Regions from separate parts of the Homo sapiens genome. Here regions 2 and 3 are each linked to region 1. Evidence: fine-mapped expression QTL. A gene starts in region 1. Each other region holds a variant in brackets. All regions are shown on one strand. Distances are between the middles of the regions.

Region 1 (8,177 bases):
AACCCATTACACTACACTGCCTCATGATTGCTTTATTCACTCCCAAAGCCCTTCTAGATAGAAACTGTTATTCCCATTCTACAAACAAGCTAAGAGAAGCCGGAAGAGGTGAATGACTTTCTTGAGGCCTTATGACTAACTAAGCCAGGAGCTGAGACTCAAGAACAGGTTTCTTTTTTTTTTTGTTGAGACAGAGTCTCACTCTGTCGCCCAGGCTGGAGTGCAGTGGCACGATCTCGGCTCACTGCAAGCTTCGCCTCCCGGGTTCACGCCATTCTCCTGCCTCAGCCTCCCAAGTAGCTGGGACTACAGGCGCCCACCACCACACCCGGCTAATTTTTTTTGTATTTTTAGTAGAGACGGGGTTTCACCGTATTAGGCAGGATGGTCTTGATCTCCTGACCTCGTGATCCACCCGCCTCGGCCTCCCAAAATGCTGGGATTACGGGTGTGAGCCACCACGCCCGGCCAGGTTTTTTTTTTTTTTTTGAGACGGAGTCTCGCCCTGTCGCCCTGTCGCCCAGGCTGGAGTGCAATGGCATGATCTCAGCTCACTGCAACCTCTGCTTCCCAGGTTCAAATGATTCTCCCGCCTCAGCCTCCTGAGTAGCTGGGATTACAGGTACCTGCCACCACGCCCAGCTAATTTTTAGCAGAGAGCGGGTTTCACCAGGTTGGCCAGTCTGGTCTCAAACTCCCGACCTCAGGTGATCCACCTGCCTCAGCCTCCCAAAGTGTTGGGATTACAGGTGTGAGCCACCGTGCCTGACCCAGGTTTCTTTTTGTTTGTTTTGAGATGGAGTCTCGCTCTGTAACCCAGGCTGGAGTGCTGTGGTCTGATCTTGGTTCACTGGAGCCTCCTGCTCCCGGGTTCAAGCAATTCTCCTGCCTCACCCTCCGGAGTAGCTGGGACAGGTGCCTGCCATCACGCCTGACTAATTTTCGTATTTTTAGTAGAGATGGGGTTTCACCATGTTGGCCAGGCTGGTCTTGAACTCCTGACCTCAGATGATCTGCCTGCCTCGACCTCCCAAAGTGTTGGGATTACAGGCGTGAGCCACCACGCCCGGCCAGGAATGGGTTTCTAAGCACCAAAAACATTCTCCTGTTTTGAGGCAGTCTGTCTCTTTGCTATGCAGTTCCCAAGCACTTGTCCTAGCTTGGTTCTCACATCTGCCAATCGATACACTTGCCTCTGTAAAACATTTGCCTTACAGGGCTACTGTGAAGAACACACGTGTTCTTAGATACAAAACTATCCCATTCACTACAATGATACCAGCTTGAATTTTTTTTTTTTTTTTTTTTTTTGAGACAGAGTCTCGCTCTGTTGCCCAGGCTGGAGACGGGGTTTCACTGTGTTAGCCAGGTGTGAGCCACTGCGCCTGGCTGATACCAGCTTGAATTTTACATATACTTCCTGTGTGCCAAACACTGTGCTAGGTGCAGTATGTATATTCCTTTCTTCAACCCTCATGACAACTCCAATAATAGCATAGGTAGGTGCTATTATTATTCTACTTCACAGATGAAGAAACTTTAGTACAGAGATGCTAAATAATGTGCCCAAGTGAGAGTTGGGGTTCAGAACCAGGCATGGGTCTGTCCCCAGAATGCATGCTCTTAACCCCAAACTACTGTACATTGTATACAGATATTTTTCTGATTAGGCATTGAACCCATTGGGCAAAAAGCACAGACCAGTGAGGTGCTGACATTTTAGGGATGCATAGGGAGGATGAGTAACTGGAGTTGATCAGACCAGGCAGGGCGGTTCTGGATAGGGGAAGTGTTTGGGAAGGCAGGAAGCCTTGAGAAGGTAACCAGGGGAGAAATGAACAGATCTTGAAAGCTGATGGAAGGCCTGGGGGCAGGGGACCCACCTACTCACCAGCCAGGGCCTGCAGGCTGGGGAAGCCATGGTAGGTGACATCATCAAGCTGGATGAGCCGAGGTCCAAAAGCCTGGCACAGCCGCTCCACCATGCCAGTGATGCGGGCGATGTTGTTGTTGGAGGAACAGATAAAAGAGAAAAGGCATTCGATGGGGTCTTGTCGCAGCAGTCGCACACCTGGAGACCAGAAATGCAGGGGGTAGGAGAGGTACCTGCTGTTGGGTGTGGCCTCTTCCCACCCACAGGTCAGATCCTAGGTACCAAAACTCCAGGAGGATCCCAGGAGAATGAGAGTCAGCACCGTTAGAGAAAGCAACACCAGACCTCTCATTCCTCATAGCATCTTGTGAGGGCTGAGTTACCATCCCATTCCACAGATAAAGAGGCCACAATGTAAGCTCCATGAGGACTGGCATTTGGGTCTGTTTTGTTCACTGGTGTATCCCCGGTCACACAGCAGATGCTTTGTATATATTTACAGAATGAATGAAATCACTTGCCCTAGGTCACACAACCAGGAATGGGCTCAAAATCCTTGTCACTTCACTATGGTGATTAGCAGGATAATAATAATGGTAATAATACTTACTATGTGCCTGGCATTATTCTAAGCACTTTACATGTATTAGTTCCTTAAATCCTCATAAAAGCCTATGAAGTAGATATAATCCCCATTTTACAGGTGGCAAAACTGAGTCATAGAGAAGTGACTTATGTCCAAGAACCCTAACCCCAGCCCAGGTCCTGTACTCACCTTGGAATTTCTGAGCCACCTCTTGGAAGTGGGAGTCCACGGAACCCCAGTGGTGATACAGTTGAGCCAGGGTAACATCTAGCTGGAAGTACTTGCGCACGGCCTCCAGCTCGTCTGGTGTGGGCCTGCTAGCCTGGCTCTTGTCTCCTCGGTACACAGTGCAGTGGAGCTGCTCCTCAGTCTGAGTCAGTGTCCATACTTGATCCGCTAGTACACCACTCCAGTGTGCAGGACTTTGCTCCCTCCACCTGAGCCCAAGGCACATGACAACCCTGGCACTCAATTTCCTTTCTTGCACCCTTTGGGGTCCCTCCTATCCTACAATAGCTCCATGTACGAAACTAATACAAGTAACAGTGCTATCTTCCAGTCTGAGCAACATGGCGAAACCTCACCTCTACAAAAAATACAAAAATTTAACCGGGCATGGCGCACACCTGTAGTCCCAGCTACTCGGGAGGCTGCGCCCGGGGGGTCGAGGCTGGAATGGGCCTCTCTGCATTCCTACCTGGGCAACAGAGCGAGACCCTGTCTCAAAAAAAGAAAAACAAGTGCTATTATCTTCTGCATCGGTTATACCGCTGGATCCTTACAATTATCACTGTACAGACATATTAAAGGTAACAGGTTGGCTACCCGTGCTTGTTTCCTCTTTTGTACCCCGGGTTTCTTCCATCATCCCCCAAATTCCTTTGTACCCCATGCCAGGCAGTGTTGAGGCGGCAGGAGCCAGTCCGAGGGGACAGGCTTCTCAGGCTCAGTCACTCACCGGAAAGATTGTCCAGAAGGCAGAACCAGGTCCAGGCGCAGCTCAGAGCGAGGGCACGGGATGGAGGCCCACAGGGCAGGAGTGGAGGCTAGAGTACGATGCCCCATGCGCCTGGGCAGAAGCGCGCGGGCAGGCATTTCCACAGCAGGCACCGCCCCGTAGTAGCCCCGCCTACCCAGAACCAGGCCTCGTCGACGCCCAAAGACCCCGCCCAGACAAGGACCACGACCCTTAAGGCCTCGCCCACACGGTGCTGTTTAACAACCTTCCCTGTTTCACTTAATTCCTCCACCTCCTGCATGCCTCGCCCTTTGCGGGTCATCAAAGCCCCGCTTCGTGCCCCAATTCTCCGGCTTTCCTGAGGTGTAGGTCCCGCCCCCTCCTTGCGACTTATCTTCTCCCGCCCCCAGAGCCTGTGGGCGCGCACAGCTGTGTTCTTCTGGGTTCTCCAGGGGCAGACCACAGCACCACCGGAAGTAGGGCTCAACCACCGCTCATTTCACCTAGAGGTAGCCAATCCGAGGAGGAGGTAGGAGGCGCCAATGAGAAATCAGGGTGGGCGGGCCGTTCTGAGGCGCTCGCGCGGTTGGCCGGCACTGGGCTCTCTGCCAGCTGCTCGCCTTTCCCCCTCCGGGATTGTCTGCACTCGGGGCGCTAACGAGTTCCATCTGGGCGCCCCGCGGTTCCTCAGGGCTGTCCGTCTTCAGAGCCACGTCCTTCCCCAGCCCGTTCTCCGAGAGCCGTTCTCCCCCGAGCCTTTGCAGTCTTAGGCGTTCGCCCTCCTTGGGCCGCCTCCCACGAACCCTGTCTTCACCAAGAACCGGAGCGAACACAGCTCCGGCCCCAGAGCCCTCGGGAAGTGTCTCCAGAGTATTATTCTCTTCTGCGCCCGCCCGCTAAGCTTGTCCCATTCAAGGCCTTTAGGCGTCCTCTGAGACCTCAGGACATCAGAGGCCTCTCCTCGGATTGTCGTCCCGCCGGCCGCCACAGCTGCTGCCTGCCGTCTTGGGCATTTCTTCCATACTCCATCTGCTCATGCTTTCCTCGGAATGGGACGTTTGCCGGGGGTTTGTCTGGGGCTGGGCCCAGAAGCCCATCAGGTTGAGTCCAAGTCCCAGTGTGTGGCCCTGAGGCAGCCTGCCTTCTAGTCGCCTGGAGTAGGAGGATGGATTATTTAATTTCTTCCCTTCTGGAGGATGGCATGAAAAAGCAGGGAGCTAGGAGACATGACCTTTATCTGGGCCATTCTCACCTTTTAGCATAGGGATTTGGGGTTGCTGTATCTTAACTATCAGGCTGCAAGTTTTTTTTCTTTGAGACGGAGTCTCACTCTGTCGCCTAGGCTGGAGTGTGATGGCGCGATCTCGGCTCACTGCAAGCTCCGCCTCCCGGGTTCAAGCGATTCTCCTGCCTCAGCCTCCCGAGTAGCTGGGACTACAGGTGCGCGCCACCACGCCCAGCTAATTTTTGTATTTTTAGTAGAGATGGGGTTTCACCATGTTGGCTAGCATGGTCTCGATCTCTTGACCTCGTGATCCAGCCGCCTCGGCCTCTTAAAGTGTTGGGATTACAGGCGTGAGCCACCGCACCCCGCCCAGACTGCAAATTCTTGAAGAGCAACATCTGCAGCGGATTGACCCTTGTGTCCCAGCCAGAGACCTAGCGGAGTGTACCGTCAGCATGGAATCAACATCAGACCAGTGCCATCATTGTCTCAGTGCCAGTCCTCAGTGGCTGCAAGGCCTGGGCCGCCCCTTCTTCCTGTGACTGTTCCTATCTGTAGGCATGCCATCCCACAGGCGCCTAGCACTTGGAAGGCATTCCTTCAATAAATGTCGGTGGAGTCTGGAAAGAAGGTGCTGAGGTTGGGGGTGAGCAAAGAGCAACCGTCTCCATCCCAGCTCTGTCTCCGGTTAAGCAGTGGGGAAGGTCTCAGCTGTATTGATGCTGAAACACTTGGGCCATGCCACTGGCAAAGGACTTGAGGCCTCTAAGGGCCAAGTAGGAATCGATAGTTGACTCTTCCCCTGGCAGTTCAGCATACTGGTTGAAGAGCCAGGTTTGCAAACAGACCTGGGTTCCAATTCTAGCTCTGCACCTTCCTAGTTGTAGGAACTTAGGCAAGATAATTTTTTGAAACTTCAGCATCTTTGTGGAGATAACCAGTCTATTATTAAACTACCCTATAGTTATTGCAAGGATTACGCAAAGCTGAATGTCTAAAGGTGCTCAACACAGGGCCTGCCACTCACTCCATGCATGGGCAACAGGGGCTCTCTTTGCTGTGTCTTATGAAATGTAGCATGCACAGCAGTCAGCAACCACTTGGGCCCAATTATGTATCATCCCTGGGGCACAGAACCTCCCTTTGTATCCCCTTTGCCCTGGCAGGGGGCAAGAACAAAGAATTCTAAATTGACAGTTTATTTTCTAAGAATCAATATATTTTCTTCCTTTGAAATAAATACAAACCAGTTTGAAAGGTGGGGGAATCTATGGGAAAGAGAAGGGAAATGGGGACAGCCCCCAGTCTTTTTTTTTTTTTTTTTTAGTACCAAATGACTCTGGCGCGACCCGGAAACGCAGTTACAAATGAGAATAATTTAAATTCTCCGATAATTACAGTATTTACAACAGCAGGGGAGGGAGTCACCTAGTGCCCCTCTTCCAGGCTGGACAGATGCCCACTCACCTCACGACCGGTAGGGGCCCCAGGCCTCTAGGCAGTTATGGATTCTCCTGGCATGAGCAGGTAGAGGTGGTGGGATGGCCTGTTTTACGCAGTGTCCTAACTTTGGCCCACCACCCCGCCCTACAATGCTGTGAGGTCTCTGGAGCTTTTTCTGACCTGTGGGCCCTCCCTCTCCTTGCGCTGAACTGCCATTGGCCCTTGGAGTGTTCTGTACAGTCCAGCTGCACTTAGGGCAGGAGGGACCTCCCCCACCCAGCTTCCCCTGAGACTGGCCCCAAGACCAGAAATGAGTCAGTGCAGAGGCCGGTGCCACTCCAGGACAGTGAGCAAAGGGGAGGAGAGAAGTCACAGGGCACTATAGGTTGGGCTGTGTTGAGCAGTATCAATCACTATCGCTGGTCTCACTGCTCTGCTCGCCTTGCACCTTGCTGCGGTGCTGCAGAGCCCTGTGGTAGGCGATCTGTACTGACTTGCGGATGTTGGACTTGCGGCCCTCCAGCATCTTCTCCTTGTCTAGGTCCTGGTTCACACCCAGAGGAACCAGCTTGGTCCTGGGCAGCCACTGCCTATAGGATAAGGTGAAGATCAAATAAATCATCTCAGGGAGAACAAGGACCAGCCTTCCTCCTCTATTCACTCAAACACACCACCCAAGCACCCACTCTGGCCAGACTCTGTGATGGTCCCTGCCCTCAAAGGACTGTTCATGGTCTAGAGATGAAAGAGCCCAGTCAACAGTTATACTGTGTGGTGGCGGCGGGAGGGTAATCACAGGGTATTTATGGGTACAAAAAGGAGGCACCCTGACCTCACCAGAAATAGCTACCCTGTGCCATAGGCTCTAGGCAGACTTTACTGACATTGAATATCCTCTGCAGACAATTAACAAAAAGACTACATGTGTAAATGTGACAGAACAGGGATTCAGAGCCTGAATGTTTATGCCTGCTTTATCCTCATTTTGTCACTGTGGAGGCAGAGGTGGGAAAACTAAGTCTAGAAGCCATCTGAGTCTGGGTGGGAGCCACCTCTATATTTGTCATAAGTCTCTGATGGTCCTTTGGTTTCTAGCTATAGCTGTGTCCACTAGTGCCCACTCAGCCTCTCAGACACATGGTCGACACAACCCTTTCGCTCAAAAAACTGTTCTAAGTCCCTCCCCCACTGACTTGTGATAGCCCAGTCTGCCTGTTGCTGGAGTTTCCTGGCAGTCTGCCCCCATACCACACAGGGCTGCATCTGTGGCTGTGAGTCACACCAAATGCTCCCCTCCTTACCAGGTTCGTTTGTTGTCAAAGAAGAGGACGAGGTAGAGATGCTCTCGGGCTTCCTGGGTCATCTGCTCCCCAAGTTTCAGCACCTCCAGTGGGGGCACAGGGATGGGAACCCCATGGTGGAACATACCTTCTCGGGGCATCTTTGGATCAATGATCTGAGGATATAATAAGAGCCCAGTTTGGTTCAGTCCATGTCCTCCCAAGGCTTTTCCTCCTCAAGAACTTAGAGAGTATGTCTGAAGTGGGGACAGAGAGGGTATCATGCTACTAGAACTGCAATGCTGACCCTCAGCTTCTTTCCATGCTAAATTATTTCAGAGCCCAAGGAGCAAAGAGAAGCAAAAGGGAGAGATGGAGAAACTGAGTGGGAGCCTCTAAGTGGTACTCAAGCTGTATCTGCCCACCAGTCTACCTTACCAAGAAACTCTGTGCCCCACAGCTCAGCAGGGAGTAGGAAAAGTCTGCTAACTGTGAATCTGTATTCTGGGATTGGAAAGCAAGAAGTGTAACAGAAGCAAGCATACCAGAGCTGGGTATGATGGATAGCCTCGGCATTTGGCCCACACGAGGTCCAGAGCATCCAGCGGGGAGTCCTCATCCTCTGACAGCCAGCCAGCTCCCCGGCCCAGACTCTTCCTTACCACTTCACAGGAATGGGGGAGAGGGGGTGGATCAGCAGCTGGGGGGCTGGCGAGACCCTGACACTGGGTCCCCAGCATCCCTGGCCTTGGGCAAGGGAACTTACTGCTGTGGCCCACGCCGCGGCCAGTGCCCACGGAGTAGGCCTCATT
Region 2 (8,177 bases), 51 kb before region 1:
AGAGATCACAGCCACTCTGGGTGGCACATGTCAACAAACCAAAGATTGCTTGGAAAAAGGAGAAAAAAAAAGGCATGTTCTGAATATCTAAACAACTAAGAACGATGTCACCAGTTCATCAATGTAAACAATTCTACCTCTTCAGATGACTAAAGTGCTTTCAATTAGAAAGACATAAACAACGTAAGAGGAATCTGGAGGACTTACGCCATGCAAGTGATGGAAAACAGGTTGAAGGAATCATGATTTAAGCCTGAGAAACATGCTGAAGGAAAGTACTGAAGTCTATTTGAGAAGTGGAATCATAACATGATTAATTGTCCTATACTCCTAGAAAATTCACATGCAGACTTCACTTACCTCACTTGGGGTTTAAACGAGATAGAGGCAAGGACTTTGTGAACATCCTGAGATGTAGAAATGAGTGACCAAGTTCCTACGAGAGACTAAGAGCCACCCCAGACACCCAAATATAGAAAATGCCTTGTAGCTCTCAGAGATGAACTTGGGGTCCTCTAGCTCCAAAGCACCTGACTGACCTGCTGTGCCCCAGGGGTCCTAGAGAGCTCAGGAGATATAAACACACTGCTTGGACCCCTTTCCCACCAGATGCTAAGTTCTCAACATGACCCCCAGATCCTCTGGCCTCTGGAAGGAAAGCTAAAGGCCCCTACTCACATTCTTAAGGAACTCTTCAGCCACAATGCGGGCACGGGCATTGACTGACAGCTTCATCTCACTGATCTCCTTGTCAATCTCCTCCATGAAGTGGATCACAAAGTCCACCAACTTGTGTTTGTACATCTGCTCTGTGTGGAAGTTGGTGATCAGAAAGCTGATATCATACCCCTAGGGAAGAAGACAGTAGGGAGGGGGAAGAGAAGGAACAGGAGAGAATTAGCACCCCATGGGAACTGAGCTGGTCATGTCCTCCACTCATCCACATGCTTCCCACTGGCTGTGATCTTCTCCCAAGCTACATACCCTTCCAGTCAGCAGCCCAGCTGCTCTGGGGGAGGGTGTCTAGGTTGGATCCAAGCAACTGAACCCCGTTGAGAATTCTGTGTGTATCAGACATCTCTGGAAAACTATCTGTGGCACAACAGCTCTGCATTCAGAATGAGTCAAGGAACTTGAAGTCTTGTTACAGAATAATCTAATCAAACAACAGGGAACATTTAGTCCAGAGAAGAGATGATGTGGAAGATGGGTGGGATTAAGGGTCTTTTTCTGCTGGAGGGCTGTGGGAGGAAGATCAATTTTATTTATTCCGGGTGGCCCCAGAGGTTAGATCTAGGACCAGGAGAGAAAATTTGGCTCAGAATGAGGAAGAACTTGGCTAACACGCCTGACGTGTCTGATGATGGCACATGCTGCTGTGTGGTAGTTGCTTAGTCACTGGGGATATTTTAAGTTTACCTGGCAAGGAGTCTGTGGAGAAGATTCAAGTACAAATTCAGGCAACAACTGACCCAATGTTAACTGTGGCTTTAAGAGACTGATTCAGTGGGCCGGGCGCGGTGGCTCACGCCTGTAATCCCAACACTTTGGGAGGCCGAGGTGGGCGGATCACAAGGTCAGGAGATCAAGACCATCCTGGCTAACACAGTGAAACCCCGTCTCTACTAAAAATACAAAAAATTAGCCGGGAATGGTGGCGGGCACCTGTAGTCCCAGCTACTCGGGAGGCTGAGGCAGAAGAATGGCGTGAACCCAGGAGGCGGAGCTTGCAGTGAGCCCAGATTGCAGACTATGATTCACTTTGGGAGGCCGAGGCAGGCGGATCACCTGAGGTCAGGAGTTTGAGACCGCCTAGCCAACACAATGAAACTACTAAAAATACAAAATTAGCTGGGCATGGTAGCACATGCGTGCCTATAATCCCAGCTACTCGGGAGGCTGAGGCAGGAGAATCACTTGACCTGGGAGGTGGAAGGTTGCAGTCAGTGAGACTGCGCCACTGCACTCCAGCCTGGGCAACAAAAGCAAAACTCCATCTCAAAAAAAGAAAAAAAAAGGCCAGGCGCGGTGGCTCAAGCCTGTAATCCCAGCACTTTGGGAGGCCGAGGCAGGCAGATCACGAGGTCAGGAGATCGAGACCATCCTGGCTAACATGGTGAAACCCCGTCTCTACTAAAAATACAAAAAATTAGCCAGGTGTGGTGGTGGGCGCCTGTAGTCCCAGCTACTCAGGAGGCTGAGGCAGGAGAATGGCGTGAACCCGGGAGGCGGAGCTTGCAGTGAGCCAAGATTGTGCCACTGCACTCCAGCCTGGGCGACAGAGCGAGACTCCGTCTCAAAGAAAAAAAAAAAGAGAGAGAGACTATGATTCATTTGGCAGATCTTAGAAAGGATTTCTAATTCACTGTGCTCTTTCTGATGCTAGACTATAGGCTCCGGGAATAAGCAATGTGTCTTATCTTTTTTGCCTTTTTTTTTTTTTTTTTTTTTTTTGAGACGGAGTCTTGCTCTGTCGCCCAGGCTGCAGTACAGTGGCACGATCTTGGCTCACTACAACCTCCGCCTCCCAGGTTCAACCAGTTCTCTGCCTCAGCCTCCTGAGTAGCTAGGATTACAGGCGCCCACCACCATGCCCAGCTAATTTTTGTATTTTTAATAGAGATGGGGTTTCACCATGTTGGCCAGGCTGGTCTTGAACTCCTGACCTCATGATCCACCCACCTCGGCCTCCCAAAGTGTTGGGATTAGAGGCATGAGCCACCACGCCCGGCTCTTTTTTGCCTTTTCTATGGCTGAGGTAGACCCAACTTTTCCTAAGCTTCTAATCCTCTTTGCTCCCACTCCAAGATGAAGGCCAACTCTCAATTCAGGCAGTGGGTGCCAAACAGCTGGAGTAGCTGGTTCTAGAAACAATCCCAGGCCATTCTGTAACAGGGTCCTGGGTATCGCAAACTCATGGGTCACAGGGTCTCACCTCCACAGGCTTCCTTCGAAGGATAAAGAAGTTCTCTGCTCGCATCATCATGAAGCGCATGAACTTGTGGCACAAAATCTTCTCGATCTCATCAGCCTGGGGAGTGCAAGAGAGAAATGTTTCTCTAAAGCTGACACCCAAGGCCAAAAACACCTTGTAGCCTGGTCTTCTGACTCCAGTTTTTTCAAGGCTCCCAGGAGACAGTGAGGTTTGGTACTCGGAAGGATCACTGAAGTGGGGGACCTGGCTGTCAACTGAAACAAGGGTCTACCTTGGGGCATCTCTTAATGACGACCCATTCCAGAGAGGTAATTCTGACAGGCTTCTATTGCTTCTTTCAGAGTCTACAGCTGTACTCCAAGCTGCCCTTTCCATTCTCATTTCACTAGTGTCACATTTCCCAGGGTGTTTTGCAGCATCACCTGGGCTATCAGAGATAACCTTAGGTGGTCTCTGCTTTAATAACACTGAACATCCAACAATCCCTGAAGTTTCTCCCTTCTGAATGCTCAACATTTCTTTTTTTTTTTTTTTTTTTTTTTTTCTGAGATGGAATCTCGCTCTGTCACCCAGGCTGGAGTGCAGTGGTACGATTTTGACTCACTGTAAGCTCTGCCTCCCGGGTTCAAGCGATTCTCCTGCCTCAGCCTCCCAAGTAGCTGGGATTACAGGCGCGTGCCACCACGCCTGGCTAATTT[C/T]TGTATTTTTAGTAGAGACAGGGTTTTACCATGTTGGCCAGGCTGGTCTTGAACTCCTGACATCAAGTGATCCACCCGCCTTGGTCTCCCAAAGTGCTGGGATTACAGGCATGAGCCACTGTGCCTGGCCCTGAACTCTCAACATTTCTAAAGGAAGATTATTGCTGCTGGTTGCTAGCATGCCCTTAACACCTCTCAACACTTGTTAACCTCCCATTTTAGCAAGGAAAGCAGGCCCCAGGTTTATAAGTTTCTGTAGAAAACAGTGTGTAGTCTGCATTTAATAACAGTGCTTCGTTTTCATCCTGTTGAAAGTTTAGAGTTGCCCTCTACTGGCCAGGCATGGTGGCTCATGACTGTAATCCCAGTACTTTGGGAGGTTGAGGCGGGCCCATCACCTGCGGTCAGGAGATGGAGACCATCCTGGCAAACATGGTGAAACTCTGTCTCTACTAAAAATACAAAAATTAACTGGGCGTGGTGGCGGATGCCTGTAATCCCAGCTACTTGGGAGACTGAGACAGAAGAACTGCTTGAACCCGGGAGGCAGAGGTTGCAGTGAGCTGAGATCATGCTGCTGCACTCCAGCCTGGGCGACAAGAGTGAGAATCCGTGTCAAAAAAAAAGGAAGCAGAGGCTAGGTTTCCTGCACTCTGAATCTGGAATCTGGCACACTGATCTCTCAGATGGGGACCCCGGACTGAAAGAGGCTGAAAGGACTGAAAGAGGCCTTACGTTGGGCCTCCTCCATGGTGAACTTACCTGTTTCACAGCAATGCTGACCCGGACAGAGTTGATGGAGCCCTCAATCAGAACCTTTTCCTTCTCATTCCTGCTGATGGTCACAGGTTGTAACAGGAGCTCTTTGCTACTCCTGAAAACATAATGTGACAGAGTACTTGTACTACAGAGGGATAGAATAGTCAGAGTGACCCCACGCAGGTCCTGGAATCACTATGAGACCATAGAGTCCAAGGAATAGAAGACTCACAAGCAGGAGTGCTCCAAGATGGGGGCCAGTGAGTGTGTTCTTCAGCAGAAAGAGCACAGGCTCTGAAGTCAGGGCGAAAAGGTTTTGAAATCCAGCCTCCTCTGTTACTTTCCTTGGGCAAGTTACCCTGTTGGAATCTCAATTTTCTCATCTGTAAAATGACTCTGATTCCTAATTCACTGGCGAGGACTGAGAGAGATCAAAAAGGGTCAAATGTCTAATAGCGTGCCTGGCACATAGTAGGAGCTTTACAAAAGATAGCTATTTTAGTAACTACAAGTTGAACATCCCCAATCTGCAAATCTGAAATCCAAAATCTGAAACTGGCTGGGCACAGTGGCTCATGCCTGTAATCCCAGCACTTTGAGAGGCTGAGGCTGGTGGATCACCTGAGGTCAGGAGTTCGAGACCAGCCTGGCCAACATGGTGATATCCCATTTGTACTAAAAATATAAAAATTAGCTGGGCATGGTGGCGCACTCCTATAATCCCAGATACTCAGGAGGCTGAAGCACGAGAATTGCTCGAACTCAGGAGGTGGCAGTTGCAGTGAGCCAAGATCATACCACTGTACTCCAGCCTGGGTGACAGAATCAAACTCCATCTCAAAAAAAAAAAAAAACCTGAAAGTTTCCGAGTGCTGACAAGATGCTCAAAGGAGATCCTCATTGGAGCATTTTGGATTTGGAATTAGGGATGCTCAACTGGTTAAGTATCTGCAAATATTCCACAATCTGAAATACTTTTGGTCCCAAGCATTTTGGATAAGAGATACTCAACCTGTACAGGCAAACCAATATACCATTTAGGAATACAGAGAGAACACCTGTCTTAGAGGTAAGGAAAGGCTAAAATTGAACACAGTTTGGCTTCCTTTAATTATCAATCCAGAAATGATTCATTTGCCTCTGAGACCCCTATGAGTTCAGGTTACAAAGTAATGCCTCTGAATACCTAGAGATCTCTAATAGTAATTAATTGTGGTGTGGTGTCTCTAAACTGCTAACCATTTTCAAAGGCCCACTGGAAATCGTGTACGTTACACAGTATAACAGGGCATATCCTAACATCTTTATCAGTTATTTTTAAAATTAAAAATTAAATCGTATCATTTAATGTTGTAACCCAGATTATCTCAGTTATGTATGTACCAGAATGAATTTTATTTTATTTTATTTTATTTTATTTTATTTTTGAGACGAAGTCTTGCTCTGCTGCCAGGCTGGAGTGCGGTGGCACGATCTTGGCTCACTGCAACCTCCGCCTCCCAGGTTCAAGCAATTCTCCTGCCTCAGCCTCCCGAGTAGCTGGGACTACAGGTGCATACCACCATGCCCAGCTTATTTTTGTATTTTTAGTAGAGACAAGGTTTCACCATGTTGGCCAGGATGCTCTCGATCTCTTGACCTCATAATCTGTCTGCCTCGGCCTCCCAAAGTGCTGGGATTACAGGCGTGAGCCACTGTGCCCGGCCTATTTACTTATTTTTTGAGACAGGGTCTCACCCAGGCTGGAGTGCACTGTCGCAATGTTGGCTCATTGCAACCTCTGCTTCCCAGGCTCAAGAGATCCTCCTGCCTCAGCCTCCAGAGAAGTGGGACTACAGGCATGTGCCACCATGCCTGACTATTTTTGCATATTTTTTTGGTAGAGATGGAGTCTTGCCATGTTGCCCAGGCTGGTCTTGAACTCCTGTACTCAAGCGATCTACCCACTTCAGCCTCCTAAAGTGCTCGGATTACAGGGGTGAACCACTGCACCAGGCCTCCAGATTAAATTTTAAAGGGGAAAAAGATATTTATGAAATGGAAACTAGATAAGAGAAAATCATTCAAAATATGAAGTATTTGGATTAGGGGGTCAGAGTGTCTAGGCTGGTAGGTAAAAAAAAAATCCCTGATCATTACATTAGAAAAGTATGGAGATGGGAAAAAAAAAAAAAAAAAAGAAAAGTATGGAGATGGAATCTCAGATAACAATTATCTGACCATTCCTTAAACTACCAGTGTTTTCAACAATGCCACAGGAGAGACTTCATCAACAGCCCTGCTCTGAGAAGTCATACCTTGTGTTAACCAATCTTGTCTTTTCCCCTGGGTTCTGTCCTGCCAACCCACTGACCCTATTTTCTTAACTCCAAATTGGGAATCACCATTCAGCTGGCAGCAAGACAAAATGTCAACTGCAGCTTTCCTGACTACTGCAGGACATAAGTTCATGGCACCTTCTAGACAGCAGCCATCTCTGTGTGCTGCACCCCTCATCCCCACCTTGACTTGTCCTTCCCTACCTGACTTCCACTTCCGGCTTGTTGTGTCGTTCCACAACCTGGGAGGAGAAGTTCTCCAGGCAGAGGGCAGCCTGCAATGTGGCCCGCACGGCACTCAGGTAGGGGCGGAGAGTGGCAGTCTATAGGAAATAACACAGAGGAAAGGGAAGATCAAAATCTGTCACGCCAAACCCACCGATCCCCTATTCCAGCTCCCATGAAGCCAGGTAGCACTGAGGGTGCAAGGCTCTTAAGACACTACTGTGAACAGAACAGACTAGGCCTTCGAGACGCCTTCCAAGGTGTAGAGTGGTAGTTTTCAACAGGAGACAATTTTGCCTGCCAGGGTACATTTGGTAATGTCGAGACATTTCCTTTCTTTCTTTTTTAACCTGGGGTCAGACCAGAGGAATGCTGAGACATTTTCAATTGTCATGACTTGGCAAGAAGGGGAACTGCAGGCATTCAGTGGACAGATATCCACTAAACATACTACAATGCACTACAAAGAATTATCGAGACTCAAATATCAATAGTGCTAAGGTTGAGAAAGTGATCTAGAGACACACCAGTGAATGCATGATTGTCGTCAATCTATTAGGCCAACAAATGTATAGGTGTACTGTTTGCCACGCACTGAGCTAACTGGGAATTCAAAGATGATTAACACTGTCTCTACCCTCAAACAGCTCAACTGGATAGCAAATATACAGAAAATAACTATGATATAAAGATGACATGTGAAATATTTAGATTTACAAGTAATCTATATTTGCAGAAGAAACTGGTTTTGAAGGTGAAATGGGATTAGGAGGAGAAAAAGGAGAATAAGGACATTCTTTTTTTTTTTTTTTTTTTGAGACAGAGTCTCGCTCTGTTGCCCAGGCTGGAGCGCGGTGGCACGATCTCGGCTCACTGCAAGCTCCACCTCCCGGGTTCATGCCCTTCTCCTGCCTCAGCCTCCCAAGTAGCTGGGACTACAGGCGCCCACCACCACACCCGGCTAACTTTTTGTATTTTTAGTAGAGACAGGGTTTCACGGTGTTAGCCAGGATGGTCTCAATCTCCTGACCTTGTAATCTGCCCGCCTTGGCCTCCCAAAGTGCTGGGTTTACAGGCGTGAGCCACCACACCCTGCCAGAATAAGGACATTCTTAGGAGAGGGATTAGCTTCTAGCTGCACTGGTCAGTCCTTGTATCAGCCAAATTCTTTCCCACCTCAGAGCTTTACACATGCTTGACCATCTATCTGTAGGCTTTTCTCCTCTTTCTTTGCCTAAGTCA
Region 3 (8,177 bases), 82 kb before region 1:
TGTAAAGTGAAGGCTCACGCTCCCCACCCCTGGATCGGAGATGCTGGGGGAGTCCCTAAATAGGAAGCCCCATGTCTGTCCTTAGGTGGGAATTCTGGGCCTCGCTGCACGGAGGAGCTGCTGATGGCCTCAGGCTCTTGCTGTGGACCCTGGGGTACACGGCCTCGCCCCATCCACTCTTGACCCTCCAACAGCAATGGAGTCAAGCCCCAAATACTTCACTTGTTTCTTTTTATTTGGTGTTGGATCCAGGACAAGGGCAGTGGGGAATCGAAGCAGGGGCTTCCCTAGCTTCATATCCCCCAGGCCCCTGCGCCTCTGGAATGTACCAACAAGGGGCAGGGGTTTCAGGGGGCTCAGCCTCTTCATGGGGCAGGCCTCAGCCCTGGGTTTGTCACAGTCTGGCCTTGAATTTGCCTTTGGCCTTGACCTTCCGACAGGTGCTAGGAATTGTTCCGACTTCAAAGGGCAGAGGCAACAAGGCACTTCCAGCTGGGGGCCTCGGAGGCACAGGAGAGCAGGAGCCTCGGTGTGAAAGGAGGGGAGAAGAGGGAGATGATCAGAAGTCTGTGGAGGAAGGGGCTTCTGAGGGAGACCAGCTCTTCCCTTGGGGTGCCAGCCAGCCTGGGAGCTGCCCTCTGCCTGTGCCCTCCAGCCCTGACCCCGTGCTCAGCACTGTCCACTGGGTGTGAGTCACAGGTCGAGGCCCACCTTTCTTGGCTTCAGGATGCTGGGTGCCACCTTGAAATCAAGGTTCGGTGGGAGGGAAATGAAGACCTTAGCCGTGGGTAGAGTCCTCAAGGCCTTGCCTGTGGTCGACAGGGCCTTAGTGCCCACCAGCTTGCTGTGCTGTCGTCTGAGGACCTGGCCCTGGTGTCGGAGTACATGGGGAGAAGGCAGCTGGGCCTTGGTGTGGAGGCTGGGGAAGTGGTGACGGGCTGTGGGAGCAAGAGAAGCTGTGAGGCCCTGGGGTGGGGCCCAAGGTGGCCTAGCTGCCCTAACAGGTACGTGTGGAGGATGGGGGGATATGGAGGGAATGGGGTGAAGGCCGACGGAGCCCTCCCGGTTCCTCCTCCAGAGGCAGTGAGAAGAAAACAGGGTAGAGTCCAACAGACCTGGGTCTGCATCCCAGCTGTGCCCCTTCTGAGCTGTGCAACCTTGGGCAACTTCCTTAAACTTCCTGATACCTCGGCTGGAAAATGGGGATAATAGCACCTACCTTGCTAGGTTGGTGTAAACACTAAAGGAGCTGGGCAGGTAGCGGTATGGGGCAAACTGTTAAGTGCTGGACATGTGTTAGTTCTTTCCCCGAGAGGTGACTGCTTGAAGGCAAAGGCAGAATACTGCAGTGGGAAAAGCGTGGGCGCTGGAGAGAGCAACCTGGGCTTAAGTCCTGGCATCTTTGAAATCAGGTCATCTTTGAAATAAGTCACTCTGTGAGGCAGAGTGACTACTTTGGAGGAGACAATACTCATTTGGCTGGGTTTTTTTTTTTTTTTTTTTTTTGAGACAGAGTTTTGCTCTTGTTGCCCAGGCTGGAGTGCAATGGTGCAATCTCGGCTCACTGCAACCTCCGCTTCCTGGGTTCAAGCGATTCTCGTGCCTCAGTCTCCCAAGTAGCTGGGATTATAGGCACCTGCCCCTACACTCGGCTAATTTTTGTATTTTTTAGTACAGATGGGGTTTCACCATGTTGGCCAGGCTGGTCTCGAACTCCTGACCTCAAGTGATCTGCCCGCCTCGGCCTCCCAAAGTGCTTTTTTTGTGTCTTTGTTTTTAAGACAGCATCTCGCTCTGTCTCCCAGGCTGGAGTGCAGAGGTGCGATCATAACTCACTGCAGCCTTAACCTCCCGGGCTCAAGCGATCCTCATTAGCCTCGCGAGTAGCCTGGACCACAGGCTCACACCACCGTGCCCAGCTAATTTGGCTGTGTATTTTTAAACAATACTTTGTGAGTAGTGGCTTTTACTTGCTACTGGTGGCTCTTTGGTGGGGTGGCTGATCCAGGTGGTTGGGAGGGGCCTGGAGAGCAGGAATAAATCGCCTTGGAACACTCGGGTGTTTTGGGGGAATGGTCTTACCCAGGGCCCGGGGGTTCTTCGGACTCAGTGGCAATCTGTTCAAGTGGTGGGGTTGCCTGTCCCCACTAGAAAAGGTCATGGTGAAAATGCAGCCCATCCTGGTGCTGGGGGCATCCCACTCCCAGAGATTGGGGCAGACCAGGGCTGTGGCCCTTTTCGCCTTGCCTTTCTTCCCCTTTCCGGGGGCTGAAGTGGTGGCAGTGGAGACTGGCTTCTCACTGTGCCCCAGGCTCCTGGCCCCAGTGCCTTTCCTAGAAGCTGACCTGTGGGTAGGGGTCCCCGAGTCCTTGCCTTCCCCAGAGCCTCGCTGGGTCAGCAGAGGGACTGCTGGGCGGACCCCCATCCGCCGATGACACATCGCCATGGGCTTCTTGATGGTGAAGCCCTCTACCAGGAGCCGGATGCCCACATATTGAGGCACCTCCACAGCAGGCTGTGGGCAAGAAGAGGAGACAAGGCCCACTCAGTCAGTGGTACTGGAATCCTTGGCCCAGCGGGACCCAGAGTAGAGATGGGTGGAATTACTTTCTGAGGCACCTGGTCAAAGAGGCGTTTCTGAGCTGAGAAATGGAAAGCCCACCTCTGAGTCAGTACCTAGAGTCACAGAGCTCCAGGAATTGCTAGCCCAGAGGAAGGGGGAATCCTAGCCATGTCCCACCAGCACCCCTCAGCCACATTTCCCTCCTAAGCTGCCCCCAGCCCCTGCTGGAATGCGTGTGGCTCCACTGCACAGGCCACTGCTGGTGGACAGCTTCCTGAGCTGAGCCAATCAGATTCTCTGCACAGAGAATTTGAGTTACGCCACCCAGACAAGTAAGAGGTTTGGAGCCTGCCTAGAGCCTCGTGTGAATCCAGGTTATGGGGTAGCAGAAACTAAGAACCTTAAAGAAGACAGTCTGTGGAGAGAATGAAGTAACGAATATGCAGAGGAAGGCAGAGAGAAGGGTCCAGGAGAGGGACTCCCTTACAACTCTCAGTTCCTATCAGGCCAAGCTGTATGTCCTGCCCTCAGCTGGGCTCCAGGAGAGCTCCCTGTGCCTTGCTAGCAACCTGGAGCCAGTTGGAGGTATCTTCTGTGCCACTGAAGGATCCTGATCAGAATCTATCTAAACATCAGAATTACTTGGAGCTTGTTAAAAATACAGCTATTGGCCGGGCATGGTGGTCACACCTGTAATCCCAGAGCTTTGGGAGGCTAAGGTTGGCAGATCACTTGAGGTCAAGAGTTCGAGATCAGCCTGGCCAACATAACCAAACCCTGTCTCTACTAAAAATACAAAAAAATTAGCAGGTCATGGTGGCAGGCACCTGTAATCCCAGCTACTCGGGAGGTCGAGGCAGGAGAATTGCTTGAACCCAGGAGACAGAAGTTGCAGTGAGCCGAGATCGCACCATTGTACTCCAGCCTGGGTGAAAAGAGCGAAACTCCGTCTCAAAAAAAAAAAAAAAAAAAAAATGCAGCTATTGCCGGGCGCGGTGGCTCTCTGGGAGGCCAAGACAGGCGGATCAGCTGAGGTCAGGAATTGGAGACCAGCCTGGCCAACATGGCGAAACCCCATCTCTACTAAAAACACAAAAATTAGCCGGCCATGGTGGGCGCCTGTAATCCCAGCTACTC[G/A]GGATCTGAGGAGAATCACTTGAATCCGGGAGGCGGAGGTTGCAGTGAGCCGAGCTAGCACCACTGCACTCCAGCCTGGGTGGCAGAGTGAGACTCTGTCTAAAAAAAAAAAAAAAAAAAAATCAAATAAAAATGTAGCTATCAGCACTCCCAAGTAGCCCCAGATGATGAGGGAAAGTTCATCTTTACAGAAGAATCTCAGCTAATAAATGCAGAAGGAACAACAGAATTAGACATTTGCCATTTTGCAACTCTAATAAAATAGGCAATAATCAAAACTGGTATCAAAACAATTAGATGAAAGGATGACAGGAAAATGTGTAATCTGGACAGAGCCAACACAGCACCTTACAGAAAAATTAATTGCAAAGGGGAGATGTAGCTTATAATGGAGAGAATCTGGTAGCCACCACTGTAACCCACAGTCAAACTCAGCAGCACTAACTGTGAGACACTCTCACAGGATGTGCCTTGTGATGCCACATGAGGTACGCGGCATCACCTCTGAAGTGCTCTTGGGAAAAATGTTTAACCTCATCAAACTATTTGACCTAACTTCTAGTTCCTGAGACAATCAGCTAACAGAAGACCAAGGTAAATCACACCATAAGGAAACAATCAGATAAATCCAGAATGTGGGACAGTTCTACAAAACAACCCGCCTGGCCCCTCAAAAGATCAAAACTATGGGGTCAAAAGGCACTGGGGCTGGCCTAGATGAAAAGAGACAAAAAAAAACAGTGCAAGGTATAAGCCTTTACTATGTGCTGGCCTAAAAACAAAAACAAGAACAAATCAGCAATAAAAGACATTTAGAGGGCTTGGCGCGGTGGCTCATGCCAGTAATCCTAGCATTTTGGGAGGCCGAGGCGGGCAAATCACGAGGTCAGGAGATCGAGACCATCCTGGCTAACATGGTGAAACCCCATCTCTACTAAAATACAAAAAATTAGCCGGGCATGGTGGCAGGCACCTGTAGTCCCAGCTACTCAGGGGGCGGAGGCAGGAAAAGCGCTTGAACCCGGGAGGCGCAGCTTGCAGTGAGCCGAGATGGTGCCACTGCACTCCAGCCTAGGCAACAGAGCAAGACCCCGTCTCAAAAAAAAAAGATATTTGGGGGGCATTTGAAAAATGCAGATATACATAGTCTCCTCCCCAAGCTAGACATTTTGGGTCAATCTCTGGGGGTGGAGCCTCCTCACATCCATACCTTTAGAAGCTTTCAGATGCTTCTGGCCTGGGCACTGGCATTGGGAGCACTGCACTACAATGGCACCTTTTCCCTCAGCTTGCTCATATTTTCCTGCCCATGTATTTCCCCGTTTACATTTTTTGAAACCAAAACGCCAATATATTAATTTAAGAAATGATCAATAACAACTGTAACAAAGGCGAGGTCACTTAGGTCATGTGATCAGTACGTTCTCTTCCTGTAACCAAACCTTGACAGAAACCGGAGGCTAATCAGAAGCCACTTAAACTGCCACAAGAAATTCTATCCAGAACTCAGAAAGCCTTGCAATCAATTTTCTGACTGATTTTTTAAAATGCTGTTCTATTTTACAAGTAGACTCCAATCTCTTTTTGGAGCAAGACGAGTGAAATAATTATAATACTACTAATAATAGTAGCTACCAGTAATTGCCTATTACTATACATTCAGGCACTTTACAGGTTATACATGATGAAACTCCTAACCTTATTAGGTAATAATAACATTAGCTAAAACTTAGTAGCATTTACTACGTGCCAGGCACTATTCTAAAGTACTTTACTGGCTGGGCACGGTGGCTTCTGCCTGTAATCCCAGCACTTTGGGAGGCCGAGGTGGGCGGATCACCTGAGGTCAGGAGCTCGAGACCAGCCTGGCCAACATGGCAAAACCCTGTATCTACTAAAAATACAAAAATTAGCCAGGCGTGGTGGTAGGCACCTGTAATCCCAACTACTTGGGAGGCTGAGGCAGGAGAATCGCTTGAACCCAGGAGGTAGAGGTTGCAGTGAGCCAAGATCATGCCACTGCACTCCAGCCTGGGCAACAGAGCGAGACTCTGTCTCAAAAATAAATAAATGAAGTACTTTACTTATCAACTCATTTAATTCTCACAACTCATAGTACCTAACTTTGTGAGTTAGGTACTATTTTTATTCTTACGGACAAGGAGACCTAGGGGTTAGGAACTTGTCCAAAGTCACATAGCTTGTTGTCACTGAACAGGAATTTGAACCCAAGGAGATTCCAGAATCTCTGCTCTTATGGCTATGCTATATGCCTCTCTAGAAATATTATCCTCATACATGAATTCATTTTATTCTCCCATTCCCATGAGAAAGATGGTAATAATATCCCCATTTCAAAGATCAGGAAACTGAGGCTCAAGGAAGTGAGGTCACCTTAGCAGGACCAGGACTTGAATCTGGGTCTTAAACTGGGTCTGACTGCAGAGTCCTATGCTCCACTGCAGGGCTGCCTGGAAGAGGGTGCAGACTCTCTGGGGTCCTGCCTGGGCCCAACCTCCTCACCTGCTTATAGATGAGCTCAAAGGCTCCTGTGTCACAGTTGCGGTCCAGCATCCGGTCAATGACCACGCGCAGGGTGTCAGCTTGCACGCCAGCACAGAGCCGGGCAGTGACTGCTGTGGAGGGTGCCATCGTGGGGCTGGCGTTGATCTCAATCAGCCAGGGCTGGAAGTCCTCCCCGAACACGAAGTCAGCGCCATAGAGCTCAAAGCTGGCCTTCCGACACTGCACGGTGTCCTGGGAGGTCTGAAGTGCGTGGATCACAGCATCCTTCATGCCAGGCACGATGATGGTGGACCAAGCATTTGGGGCACCCATCTCCTGCAGGTGGGCCTGGAACCTCTGGCTAGACCACATGTTGTCTGGCGGAAGCAGTGGATGCCGATGGCATGAGTTCTCCAGGTGCTTCTGGATGGAGTTGTTGCACAGGTGCACTGAGCTGGGGCAGAGAACAGAAAACTGAGGTCCAGGCCCTTGTGTCTCTCCCATCCAAACTCAGGGAGGACAGGCAAGTCCTGGAAGCAGCCCTGGGCCACCCTGCACTATTCAACTTGAGATGGGGCCCTACTGGGAAGGACAAAAAGGACAGAGGCCTGGGCCCCACCACATTCTTCTAGGGCCAGAACCACTCTTATCTCTCAGGGCTGCTCTGAGGGCGCTAGTTACGGGGGCCGCAGTAGTAAGTGCTTTGTGCATAGTCTCAGTTAACCATCCCAGTGTCTGGAAGATAAGAGGGTGGGTAAGGGTATGGCCCCGTCATCGCCAGGACGTGTTCAAGCGCCATCTCCACACTAGTTGTGAGACCTTAGGGAAGTCATCTAACCTGTGTGCTCTTCACATCTGCAAAATGGGGGTAGTAACAGTACCCACTTCACTGTTTTTTATATTTTTCTTCAGACCTGGTGAACAAGAAGTATGCACTGGGTTCTTATTAAGAATGAGATCATGTATACAAAGTGCTCAGCACTATCACATATGAAGCACTCAATAATTGATAGCTATGAATTTCATACTACTGCCTCCATTCTTCAGATGTGGAAACCAAGGCTTAAATAGGTTTTCACATGACCAGATTCAAACAACTTGGAAGCTGCAGAGACAGAATTGGAATTCAGGCTTTAACAAGGCTTTCTCTCACCCTAGAAGTTAACACGACATCTTAGTTTTCAAAACTCCTGACCTCCTTTCCCCTGCTCTACATTTGCTTCCCTTTTTCCCCCAACGACAAATATAATCTTTTTTTTTTTTTTTTTTTTTGAGACAGATCCTTGATCTGTCACCCAGGCTGGAGTGCAATGGCACGATCTCAGTTCACTGCAACCTCCACCTCCCAGGTTCAAGCAATTCTCCTGTCACGGCCTCCCGAGTAGCTGGGACTACTGGCGCCCGCCAACACGCCCGGCTAATTTTTATATTTTTAGTAGAGACGGGGTTTCGCTATATTGGTCAGGCTGGTCTCGAACTCCTGACCTCAGGTGATCCACCCACCTCGGCCTCCCAAAGTGCTTGGATTACAGGCATGAGCCACTGCGCCTGGCCCAAATAATCTTTTAACCTGTTAGATAATTTCACTTGTGTTCTTGCTTGCCTGTTTCTCCCTGCTAGAATGTAAGCCCTTGAGAGCTGGGATCTTGTTTTGTTCACTGCTATACCCCAAGTGCCCAGAACAGTGCATGGCACAAGGTACACACTCGGTCAAATCTGTTGGAGGGGCCAGGCATAGTGTAATCCCAGCACTTTGGGAAGCCAAGGTGGGATGATCGCTTGAGCCCAGGAGTTTGAGACCAACCTGGGCAACATAGTGAGACCCCATGTCTACATTAAAAAACTTAAAAATCAGCTGTGGTACATGCCTGTGGTCTCAGACACTTGGGAGGCTGAGGAGGAAGGATTGCTTGAGCACAGGAAGTCAAGGCTACAGTGAGCCGTGACCATGCCACTGCACTCCAGCCTAGGT

The links. PIP is the estimated chance that this variant, and not a neighbour inherited with it, causes the effect.
Region 2: its variant is the best candidate, but not a certain one, in a credible set for the expression of OGG1 in whole blood (TOPMed, PIP 0.69).
Region 3: its variant is the best candidate, but not a certain one, in a credible set for the expression of OGG1 in whole blood (TOPMed, PIP 0.64).

Annotation. Positions count from the first base shown.
Region 1 is chr3:9,745,664-9,753,840 of GRCh38, reverse strand. OGG1 (8-oxoguanine DNA glycosylase) reads right to left here and starts at 3,889. Exons shown (of 7, transcript NM_002542.6): 1 at 3,418-3,889; 2 at 2,649-2,896; 3 at 1,892-2,071. The coding sequence starts at 3,554. BRPF1 (bromodomain and PHD finger containing 1) reads right to left here. Exons shown (of 14, transcript NM_001003694.2): 11 at 8,132-8,177; 12 at 7,911-8,029; 13 at 7,387-7,541; 14 at 5,826-6,675. The coding sequence ends at 6,492. RefSeq lists enhancers at 4,116-4,235, 4,266-4,315.
Region 2 is chr3:9,796,515-9,804,691 of GRCh38, reverse strand. It overlaps ARPC4-TTLL3 (ARPC4-TTLL3 readthrough), which reads right to left. Exons shown (of 12, transcript NM_001198793.1): 2 at 6,915-7,033; 3 at 4,396-4,507; 4 at 2,936-3,031. ARPC4 (actin related protein 2/3 complex subunit 4) reads right to left here. Exons shown (of 6, transcript NM_005718.5): 2 at 6,915-7,033; 3 at 4,396-4,507; 4 at 2,936-3,031; 5 at 679-849. Among named protein-coding and RNA genes, the nearest start is that of ARPC4, 7.5 kb to the right of the region's middle. The variant C/T (reference allele first, on the strand shown) is at 3,634.
Region 3 is chr3:9,827,442-9,835,618 of GRCh38, reverse strand. ARPC4-TTLL3 (ARPC4-TTLL3 readthrough) reads right to left here. Exons shown (of 12, transcript NM_001198793.1): 11 at 6,224-6,659; 12 at 1-938. The coding sequence ends at 798. It overlaps TTLL3 (tubulin tyrosine ligase like 3), which reads right to left. Exons shown (of 14, transcript NM_001387446.1): 11 at 6,224-6,659; 12 at 2,374-2,515; 13 at 712-938; 14 at 1-525. The coding sequence ends at 130. Among named protein-coding and RNA genes, the nearest start is that of RPUSD3, 12 kb to the left of the region's middle. RefSeq lists enhancers at 41-540, 7,934-8,177 and a silencer at 8,151-8,177. The variant G/A (reference allele first, on the strand shown) is at 3,701.